2 separate regions of the Homo sapiens genome follow, and region 2 is linked to region 1. The links come from fine-mapping of genetic effects on gene expression. Tissue or cell type: fibroblasts. Region 1 holds a variant in brackets; the other region holds the start of a gene. All regions are shown on one strand. Distances are from middle to middle. Region 1 overlaps DGKB (diacylglycerol kinase beta). Region 2 holds the start of DGKB (diacylglycerol kinase beta).

What was found.
Region 2: DGKB starts here. The variant in region 1 is fine-mapped to the expression of DGKB in fibroblasts (GTEx, PIP above 0.99).

What each region holds. Positions count from the first base shown.
Region 1 is chr7:14,832,373-14,837,762 of GRCh38, reverse strand. All of the region lies in intron 2 of DGKB (diacylglycerol kinase beta), which reads left to right. Among named protein-coding and RNA genes, the nearest start is that of DGKB, 68 kb to the left of the region's middle. The variant T/C (reference allele first, on the strand shown) is at 2,949.
Region 2 is chr7:14,900,584-14,905,973 of GRCh38, reverse strand. It overlaps DGKB (diacylglycerol kinase beta), which reads left to right and starts at 3,223. Exons shown (of 26, transcript NM_001350709.2): 1 at 3,223-3,382.

The DNA.
Region 1 (5,390 bases):
GAAGTCATTCATTTTTCATGCTGTTCAATATGCATGATCAGTTTATCGGGGGCTTTAAAGATTAGATTTTTCATGTTGCAATGCAGTATTGGTAAGTGACATTCCTCCATACTCTATTAGAAAAATGATACAATGCATTCACTTTCTTGAGTTTGATTTGTATCTTTTAATAAGAATTTCTTTATGTACATTAAAGAAGTATAAAAAATCAAGTTATTGATTTAAAGTTAAATTTGCAACATGCTAAGATTATATTTGGTATATATCAAATAAGTATTTTATTTGCTTTCTTGGAATAAGGTGGGGCTGTGGAACTATTGGGCAAGATGAGTGAGCTCATGGGACACCAATTCCAGCAAAACCAAATCATTCAATGTTGGACCTAGAGAATACCATAAAGATAATTGTCTCAAGTTATCTGATTTTACATTTCCTCCACAATTGCCAGAATGCACCCTGTAACTATGATTGTTCTCCTAAATGCTAGGCTTTTCTTAAAAATAATTAAGGATAAGTAGGGTGATACTGGCACAGTATTCTTGGATAGGTATCTAGCATACCAGACAGCTTGTGTTTAAATACTGATCCTACCATACTTCAGATATCTGACTTTGGGTAACTTAATATATCTGTGTTTTATATGGAAAAAAATATGTCCAGTGCTATAAGTATTAAGTTGAATGAATCAGTATATATGAAGTATGAATTAGTATATATGAAGTAATGAGAGCCGTGCCTGGCAAATTGCTAGTGATATGACTGTTTACAATTATTATCTTACTAGAGAGGGAGTGTGTTCTTCTGGCTGTTTGAACATATTGTTGATGATCAAGTAGAAAAGAGCCACAGTTTGGAGCATGAAGAGTCAGTGTCTGTTTTTCTTCCACTAGATTAGACTCTTCTCACAAGGTAGAAGCTTCTGGTGTAATTGGCAGCCTCCGCTCTGTGTTGTCCCTACAAATGCCGAAGGCAGCTGATACGGAGCCTGCTGTGACTGCCTACAGCATGCTGTGACCGTGCTCCGGTTTAGGGTTTCAGGCTGAGTCACTCCATGGGAAGCATTTCCCTTGATATGTGGGAGAGGAGTATAATTTTCTTCCTCACTCTTGATATAAAGTCATCCAAACTGTTGTTATAGGATAGAAAGCTCTCACTCCTGCCCTTTAGAGAATTAAGCTTATCACATTATTGGTCTGTCGGTGCTTTCTGCTGTGGTTCCACGTCACAGCAAAGGGTTAAGAAACTCCTGGGCTTTTCATGGATAACAATATTTTCTATGTGAAATCTACGTGATATTTCCAAATGATTCATTATCTGCCCACGTATTGTCACTTAGGGTTAGCTTTTTATTTGCTATATATAATGTGTGTTATATAGCATGCAAATTATTTTCGAAAAATACTATGTTATTATGGTGGGAACCTTTCCAAACTTTCATAAATTTCATACAGTTTATAGCAGCTGGCATTGTGAGGAGTTGCAAAATTACAGTGAATTTGTTCTTTTCAATAAGGACGAATGTGCATAATGTTTGGACCTGGTGTGCAGTTTCTTCCATTGCAGTGAGGCATGTGGTGTGACTTAGTGGAAAGAGCTTTGGTTTTGCAGGCAAATATTTGACGGTGTGGAATCCCAGCCCTGTTTTCTACTTATTAGTGGTATGGCCTTCGTAATGTAACATAAACTACCTGAGCCTCAGCTTTCTCACTTGAAAAAGTAGAATCCCACCTCAAAATCTTGTTGTAGGATTTAATGAGACTATAATCAGCGTCATACTAAATAATGGATTTTCAGTGCCTTACTGTAAATAGTATACAAGTGTTAACTCATTTAATCCTCGCAGTAAGCCTCAGAGGGAGACAAATTATTGCTGTTTATGGCAGAGTAGCTGGACCAGAACTGTGGCACAATAAGTGATAACAAAGGTCAAAACAGGAATAATTTGTTTATGTTTTTCATGAAGATTGATATGTTAATAAACAGGTTCTTAGTCATGTTTCCAAAATAGGAAAAGCTAGAATCCAGGATTCAGATAATACGATATCTCGGTCCTGAAAGGGGAGAGAGAGAGAGACTTGACCTCCTCACAGGTGTGTAGTCAATTTATTTTTAGGCAAATTTAGATCACACGCTAGCCCTCTTGCCCGTTTGTCATGCTGAGATTAGCTTTTACTTCTGTCCTGAGCCCTGTGTTAGATTGGCTCTATTTTGGGAAGCCCAGCCACTTATTGATAATTACCCTCTTTGTATGAGACAGAAGGATAAATGGCACAGGGCCATTTCGCAGTGTCTGAGAACACATAATTTGATGTCAGACAAAACTGGGTTTGAAGGCTAGTGCTGTGATGTATACTTCAGTTTCCTCATGGAGTTGCCTTGCTGATTAAATATGGAAATGTATGTGAAGTGCTTGGAATTTAATATATTACTGTTATAATTAGGATTGTGATAGTGGTGGCTGAGGCAGTTGAATATGAAATGTGGACTTTTAAAATATTTAAGCCTTTTCAGTTAAAACACTTATCTGAAATGTTTTGACTTACCAGAAATGTCTTGACTTTACCCTGACACTTGGTCTGAAACTTGAATCTGCAACTGTTTTAGGTAGTGCATGTCTCTCATTTCTGACTCTTTCTTCTGATTCACACTGATTAACTCAGCAGTTCCTGGCTCTGACCCAGATTATATTTCTAGAATATATGTTGGCTTCATATATTCTTTTGCCTCATCTCTGGCTCTGGTTCCTATTTGTTGTACTGCTTCAGACACAATTTCCTGTTGGTGGCTTCTCTGTGTCCATATGTCTTAAATCTTTCAATACCTAAGTTTTGCAATAGTAAAAGAAAAAAGTAACTATGAACGTCTAAACTCCCATAATTTTCGTACCCTAAAGATGCAAAACTTTGGGTAAGCTCTTTTCAGACTTGACCTCCCCCCAAAAAATCCAT[T/C]TGAGTCCAATTTATGGTCAAGCAAACATTGATACTGAAGTAATGGCATCTGTGGAATGTTGGTCAAAGTGAGCCAAATCATGCCATGTCTGAAAAATGTACGAAGTCTTAGTGGGCTAACACAACAGAAGTTCATTTTTTGCTCATATTACATTTCCAATCTGAGTCAGCAAGTGGTTTCATCTCACATTGTCTACAGTGAAGTCCCAGTCAGATGGAGCAGCCATGAGCTTTAAAAATTGGCAGTTGCTGTGACAGAGAGAGAAAGAGAGAGAGAGAGAGCACTCGTGACTGTGTGCTGGCTCTGATACCTTCTCCCTGCAAGTGATACGCTAATATTTCTTTGGCCTAAGCAATTCACATGACCATATTTAACTTCAAGGGAGTAGCATTTCTTCCATCTGCCCAGTGCCAGGGGAGAACTGAGCTATTTGGTGAAAACTACTAATTTGGCCATTATCACAGGAGTAAAATAGAACCTACCATTTACCTTGGGACATTAGCCAAGTCATCACAATTTCTTTATACTTTCATTTCATCCCCTCAGTTTATACTGAAGATAATAATCCCTACCTATAAAATGATAGCTCTTATTTTTGTTAGTAATATTATTATAACAATTTATAACAAAAATTATCACTAAGGCTTATGTATCTTAAGTTGATACTTTATCCTTAACTCAGTGATGGTTTACAGGTTGTGATTCACTAGAATTTTCCAAGTTTCCTTAGTTACCACTTTCCACATTATTATAGGAAGTGCCACAGTAAATAATAAATAGAGTACACAAGCTAGAGGAACTTAACTGTATTCATTATTCAGCAGCCTGTTCGGAGAGACAGATCCAGTGGCAAATGATGACAAAGCAATGAAATGCATTCTCTGAATGTTACGTATGCAAGATTCTTGGAGAGATTTTAACTCTGCGCATATGGATAGAAGTTGAGAGTGGAATGGGGTTTTAATTTGAATAGAAAGTATTGAGTAGAGGTGGGGGAAGAAAAGAAACTCCAAGCAGTTATCAGAGCATGTGGAGAAGCAGGAATGACTGTTACATATCAGGGAAGAACTTGATGTGTGTGTTGGTGTATAGACATATTTGTGTATGAGCATGCATGTCATGCATGTGTGTACATGGGCATGAGTCTAAGCACTGAAGGTAAGGCTGAAGAATTTAGCAATAGTCACAAAAAGTGGGTCTTTAGATGCCATTGATAAAATATTATCCATCAACATTGCCTAACAATGAAATGAATACACTCCTGAGAAGAAGTCAAGCCCCTCTCCCCTTTCCTTGTGGAGATGTTAAAATCCAAATCCTGGAGTCTAGCTTTTCCTATTCCTGAAACATGATTAAGAACCTATTTATTAACAAATCAATCTTCATAAAAACACAAACATAAACATAAAAACAAACATAAATCTTCATAAAGACATAAACATAAATCAATATCTTCAATATTAATTTTGGAGGTAGTAAAATATCTGAAGATATTGAAGATTTTAATTCTGGAGATAGCAAAATTGTAAGATTTAAATTTCAGAAAGAAGTAAATAAATTGTATCTTTGATGAAAAGGAGACTAAAAACCTATTAGGAGATTATTTTACTAGGGCAGCCTATTGAATATGTGGGGTTCCATGAAGGTTAAGGCATTGTTAACAGAGAGATAAGCACATGTTACAGGGAGTATCTAGAGGCAGAATGAACCGAATTCAATCACCAACTGAATATGGAGACTAAGGAAGAAGGATGGGGCATTTCAGCTTTTAGAAGTAAGTCAGTGTGGCTCACCCAATCCAGGAAAGGAAAACAAAAAGAAATAATTTAGAGGGAAAGTAGAGTGGTTTGATTTTGGACATATTGAACCTTAAGTTCACAGGTTATCAGATTGAGATATAAATTCGATACTTGGAAATACATATCTGGAGCTCAAGAAAGAAATCAGAGCCAGACATATAGAATGGGTGTGCCTTTGCATTGTGAGTAGTTATCAAATCATGGGCATAGATGAGATGTTTTAGTGGAAGCAGATTGAGCAAGGAGAGAAGGATGGAGATGAAACTCTAGAAAGATTTATTTATAAGACAGTTGGAAGATGAGATCTCCATGAAAACAACTGAGAAATTGTAACCAGAAAGAAAGAAGAGAATAAGTGATTGAAAGTATTCCACAATCCAAAGAAGAAACATGTTTTCAAAAAATGAGATTGAACTTGAGATAATAACCAAAACGCATCCCGAGTCTTTATCATTTAGAATGCCACTGGTGATTTTAATATGGATTTTTTTAAAAAACAATAATAGATGAAATGGATGGAAAACAGGAAAGACAGAGAGAACACATGTAAGCTACTCTTTATATAATTTCACCATGAAAACAAAGTGGAAGGATTATAACTAAAGTAAACAGTGTAAATAGAGGGATTTTGTTCTTCTGCAT
Region 2 (5,390 bases), 68 kb before region 1:
TTAGAGACCCTGAGAAGTGAGTCACATCCTTAAAGTGCCAGTTATTTAGCAGCAGAAAAAAGACGAAAAGAATTCAAACACCCTTATTTCCAGCTCACTTATCTTCCCAATGCCCTGCACTCACAGATTAATTCATTCACTCACGTATTCAAACGTTATTTTACTGTGCACATACCACTTTCTAAGCACTTTGGTAGATGCTAGAGACGCATGAATGAACTAAGCAAACATGGCTTGCTTTTGCTGTTGTACAGTTTGCAAACTTTTGGGTTCTCTTCAGTAAATGACTATCATTAAATTACAAAATTTAGTTTGGGAATACTTGTTTTGATGATGAAGGAGATGTAGATGAAAATTAATATGATTCGTTTCTATATATTTTCACAAATTGATGATTATGTTGAGGAATGAGTATAGAGCAAGTTCATTTTTCTCTTATTTTTTAGATTGATGAATGATAAACAGATTCCCATGAAGTTTCTGAAAATCTAGTGATGGGAGCAGAGAAGCATCTTGGAGAAATGGGCACAGTGTTGTAAGGGAGTGATTTGTAAGTTTTACCACAAAATGGAAAATCTTGAGTTATGAGTCAGGAATAAGATTCAATCACCAATCCTTAACTGAAAATTTTCTTCCTCCATTACCAAACCTTGTAGTTTTAAGAGAGTGGTTTTTTCTTAAAGTGAATCTTAGTAATGCTATAAGCTGTTAAAAAAAAAAAAAAAAAAACTAACAAGATGGATGTTAAATACTCATTACCAATTATTTTAACATCTTGTAGTTCTTCCAGCTCTACCCAGACCAGATGTTTAGACTCCTTCTTATTTATAATGAAGATAGCTAATAAATTATGTCTCTCAATAATGTTTAGAGTGTTAGTGCTCTTCCTAAATATGATTTAATTTCAAAATGGGAGTAAAGGTAAAACAAAAAACAATAACCAAAAAGATCAAAAAGAAAACCCTGCTAAACTACAAATGGCAAGATCCTGCTAGTTATAGTAAGGGATGAATTTGTTGAGCAGGGCAAGTTTAAAATCATACCATTTGTGGATAAAGTTGGCCTTTTGTATCAAAATGTATTTCTATGTGCTAGAGACTTCTTGTGCCTACTTCCTTACACTGCAGTGTACACAAGTATAAAAAAGGTACTCTTCAGACTGTTAATAATATTAATTGTGTGATACAATAATTATTTAATGGACAGACAACAAATGAAGAGAAAAATAGCTATTTGGCATCATGTTTAATTAGAATTTTGACGTTAAAAAATTCTGGATGCTATTCGCATTTAAGGTATTATATGATTTTTAAAACAAAATATTAGCCTCTGATAAAATCTGTTAAAATTGAAGTTAGGCTGGCTTTGGCAAATTGATATTTGTTGGATAATTGATAAATGCTTTGCTCATTAACTGGTCTTTGTTTAGCTAAAGGCAGTATAAACACATCAGGGAAAGATGTATTATTTAATCCTTTTGGGTTATTTTCTTCCTTCTGGGTCTTTTCTTATATTTTCTTTCTTCCGTGTTCCCCCTCTGTTTAATTTAACCCTGATTAACCCTGATTACACAAGCCCTAACAACTGGGAAAAAATATGGCCAATATGAAAAGTACTCAGAGGCAGAAATAATTAAAGGCGTGCATTACAAATAAAATCAAAAGGAATTAAGTTTATTTTTAGCTCAGACAACTGGAGGCTGAAAGTGGATTAAAAGTACTATTCAATTAAGTGATGTGTGTGTGTGTGTGTGTATTTAGGAGGGGTTGTTCATGATTACTCAATCTACAGAACAAGAAAGTGAAGACAGACTATTACTAGAGCAAATGTTACTAGTAATTAAGAAGTATTCTATTCTTTGGGGGATTTGAGAACGTCTTCCATTTCTAAGTTCTGCCGAATGTCATATTTTTTATGAGAATATGTTGGAGATTAATGAGAGCAGCCAATAAGGAGAGCAAATGAAAGTTAATAGAAGACAGAATCAAGTTGGTTTTACCAGAGTCTGTAGCTGACAGAGAGATGTTAATGCATTGAAATCATTGAGAATATTATATAGATAAGTTAAGAGCAACCACGGGACTTCTATGTCAAGATACCCCGTGTATAAGCTGGTAAGCACACTGCTTAATAACTGTCTGGTTTTGTACACAGTCCACAAAAATCTTGATTATTGACTTACTTACATTTTTCTTACCCTAATACACTATTTTACACACGTGCCTCAAAATTGTTATTTTTATCTGTGCCCTGATTGGTTACACATACATAGAGTTTCTCCCAATATTTAACTGCCTTTCTACTTCATCCATCCTCCAGTCACCTGCTCCGAGGTTACCAAGCCGGAATGCAGCAAGAGCGTCTGCAGCTGCTACAATTGGTAGAAGTGGCTTCGGCAGATGGTTGCTGAACAATGACCCACCAAGGACTACAGTTGTAGAAGGGAGAGGGGAGACGGGTATCATATTTCCTCCCTGAGATGTATAGTGAGTGGTAGTAATTGCAGTGAATCCAGCTCACTGTCTCAACAGCCTCTCACCTGCACCGTCTCCTCCCCTGTCTTATAACTGGACCAGCAGTTAAACAGCTGTATAGCCTTGTCTCCCTGTCTCATTTTCCCCTGAGCTCCATCAGCAAGAGTAGCAATAGCAGCTGGAGAAGCGGCAGCCAGAGATAGGCAGGGCTGGTGCTTGCAGCCGCGCAAATCGCCTCCTCCTCAACACACACACACACACACACACACACACACACACACACACACTGCACAGACTTCCAATATCAACGCGTCTTGACATAAATCAAGGACTAAGAGAGACTGAAGAAGAGCGTTAGTCATGGACAACAGGTATTTCATCTCTGACAAATTGTTTCCTTCAGCTGCTTACTGGTTTGGATGATAAAATAATCATTTGTGATAGCTAGCTTGAGTGGGAGTCTGGAGGACTGGGGGTGGACGCGATAGAGGAGCGGGGATGAAGTGGGAGGAGTGAGAGGTGGGGAAGGGGGACGCCAAAGATGACTTTCAGGCTCCGGAAACCTACGTCTTTCAGCCTCCGCTGTTTTTTAGTTGCAAATGATCAGAGACGGGTGAACTGCAGGCAGCCTGTGTTGCTGCCTGGAAGTAGATTTCCATCTTTCAGACACTAGTTCCAATGGGCCGGGTGTTCTGGAAGGGGGTGGCAGTGGGGAGGAGGATGCTGTGAGCAGAGTTCTTGAAGCTCCACTCCTCTGGGGAAGCCGAGCTGTGTGGGAGCCTTCTTACTGTGCCGGGAGCGTGTGAATTGGAAAGGATCCTGAGAACTGGCTAGTCCCAGTTCCTCTCCGGAAAAGCAGTGGCTCTCGCTTCAGAGATGCGCTCAGCTTTCGCCTGCATCACACTGCAGTAAGTTAAACTGGACATGGTTGGCAAATTGAGTGGCTTCTGGGTGTGTGGTGCGGGGGAAGGGAAGCTGGGAAGAAATGGGGAGGAAAGTTAGAGAAGCATAGCTTTGAATTCTCCATGAAATGTTAAATCGGTTCGTCTCCCTGACTCCTGTCCTAGTTATGCTATAGTAGGGGTGCTCTGTGATTTGCAGGCGGATGCCGCTTGTGTATTAGCTATGCAGAAAGTGCCCTGTCCATTGTGATTTTGGGCAACATAACTGATAAATGTTTTCTAAATTTAATTCCAAGAGTGGTCTCCTGAAAGTTACCAATGAGATAGCAGCTTGTCTTTTCAAAATGTAATTCATAAAGAGGCTGGCTTGGACTTTCAAATGCCCTAGTTAATTGTTACAAGTTCCAGTCCAGATTTATTCCTAATCTGTGAACTAAACAAGCAAGCAAGCAAACAAAAGTCTTCGATTTACCTTATTAAATTAAAATAAAACGTGAAGTAGGTCTCTAGATAACTGCTAGGCAACAGCCTAGGCCACACTGATGATATGATAAACATTCAAATACTCTTCAGTGGGTGCCACATGGAGGGTCCCCTCAGTTTCTTCCTGCTGCAATAATCTCCTCCACTTGCTGAACAGTCTCTTTCTTGTGATTTTAAAGTGGCGATTTTTACATAGATGGCTCTATACTTAGAAACCAAGCAGCATTGTGTTCACTGGCAGAAAATGAAGGCTTAAAACTTTTATAAAACAACTTCAACTGGTTGCTCAAATTGCAGATAACCAACTCTTTTAAAAACAGGTCAGCAAGGACCAGTCCATTGTAAAGCAAATGACCAAATAAACATGAATGCAAGCAGAATACTGAAGGTCTTTTCTAGAAAATAAATCAGAAATAATTAATGTTAAAAATGTTGGGGTACCTAACCAGGTCCTCTTGCATTGACCAGATTTTTACAGTGGTGGTGGGGCAGTGGGGGGTGGGGGGGGGTGGAAATCCCTCAAACAGAAAGCATATATTACACAAAAATGTTAGACTTAGTTGGAGGATCATTGGAGAAAACACTGTATTAGTACATTTTTCTCCAAGAAAAATTATTGACAAAACAGAAATTACCTAAAAGAGAATGTAAGATTTTAATCTGGATACGTCCATAGGCTAGCATATATTCCATAGGAGAAGAAGCTTCAAAATTTGTGAAATAACAATTGTGAAAAACAAAGTAATTCTGAAATCCTCTGTCTTTAGAAAATGGGTAACCAAGGACTACTCTTATCCTATAATTTCAGTTTTAAATTGTGCTACTCTTTCTCTAATCCACCAAATCTTCATGCTTTTACCAAAAATAAAACACGTCAAGAATGTCATTGGAATAGTCTTGGCTAATTTTCTACTCATCACGGGGATCTCCAGGTATAAAGGCTTACTTAATATTTTTTGGCATTGTTGGAGTGCCCAATTTGTTATAGGCGATCCATGCCACACACATACATAGTATCCCTGTGCATAAAGTCTACATGTGACCTTGTGAATCACTGAGTAAAATATAATGCAGGGAATATATTTGCTACAATAGTGCATACATGAGGGTGGTTAAAAATTTTTGACAGCAATGAGAAAGAAAACGAAAAGTCTATATGAAGAATAGAAGAATATGGTTGGAGCAAATTTGCAAGCAGTTCCCTAATACTCTAGAGTCAACTATTATTACCTGAAATCTTTATGTAGCTAAAGAGGAAGAAAATTAGGTTAAGAGCACTGATAAAAATTTGACAAAATTTTTTTAAATCTAGAAACTTATGTAGTTGGAGTTGAGCGGTGGCAATGCCTTTGCTTCATACTTTCTTGTCCTACTGGTAAGCAAAGCTCAAGTTATGACTGGGAAGATTATAAAAATCATTTGTGTAATAAAACAATTATTTAAATTGTTTTAACAATTTAAAACCATTGGTAAGTTTTGCTGGGATAGTGTCTGAACTAGTATCCTATGACTGATGCTTTTTCTTGCACAC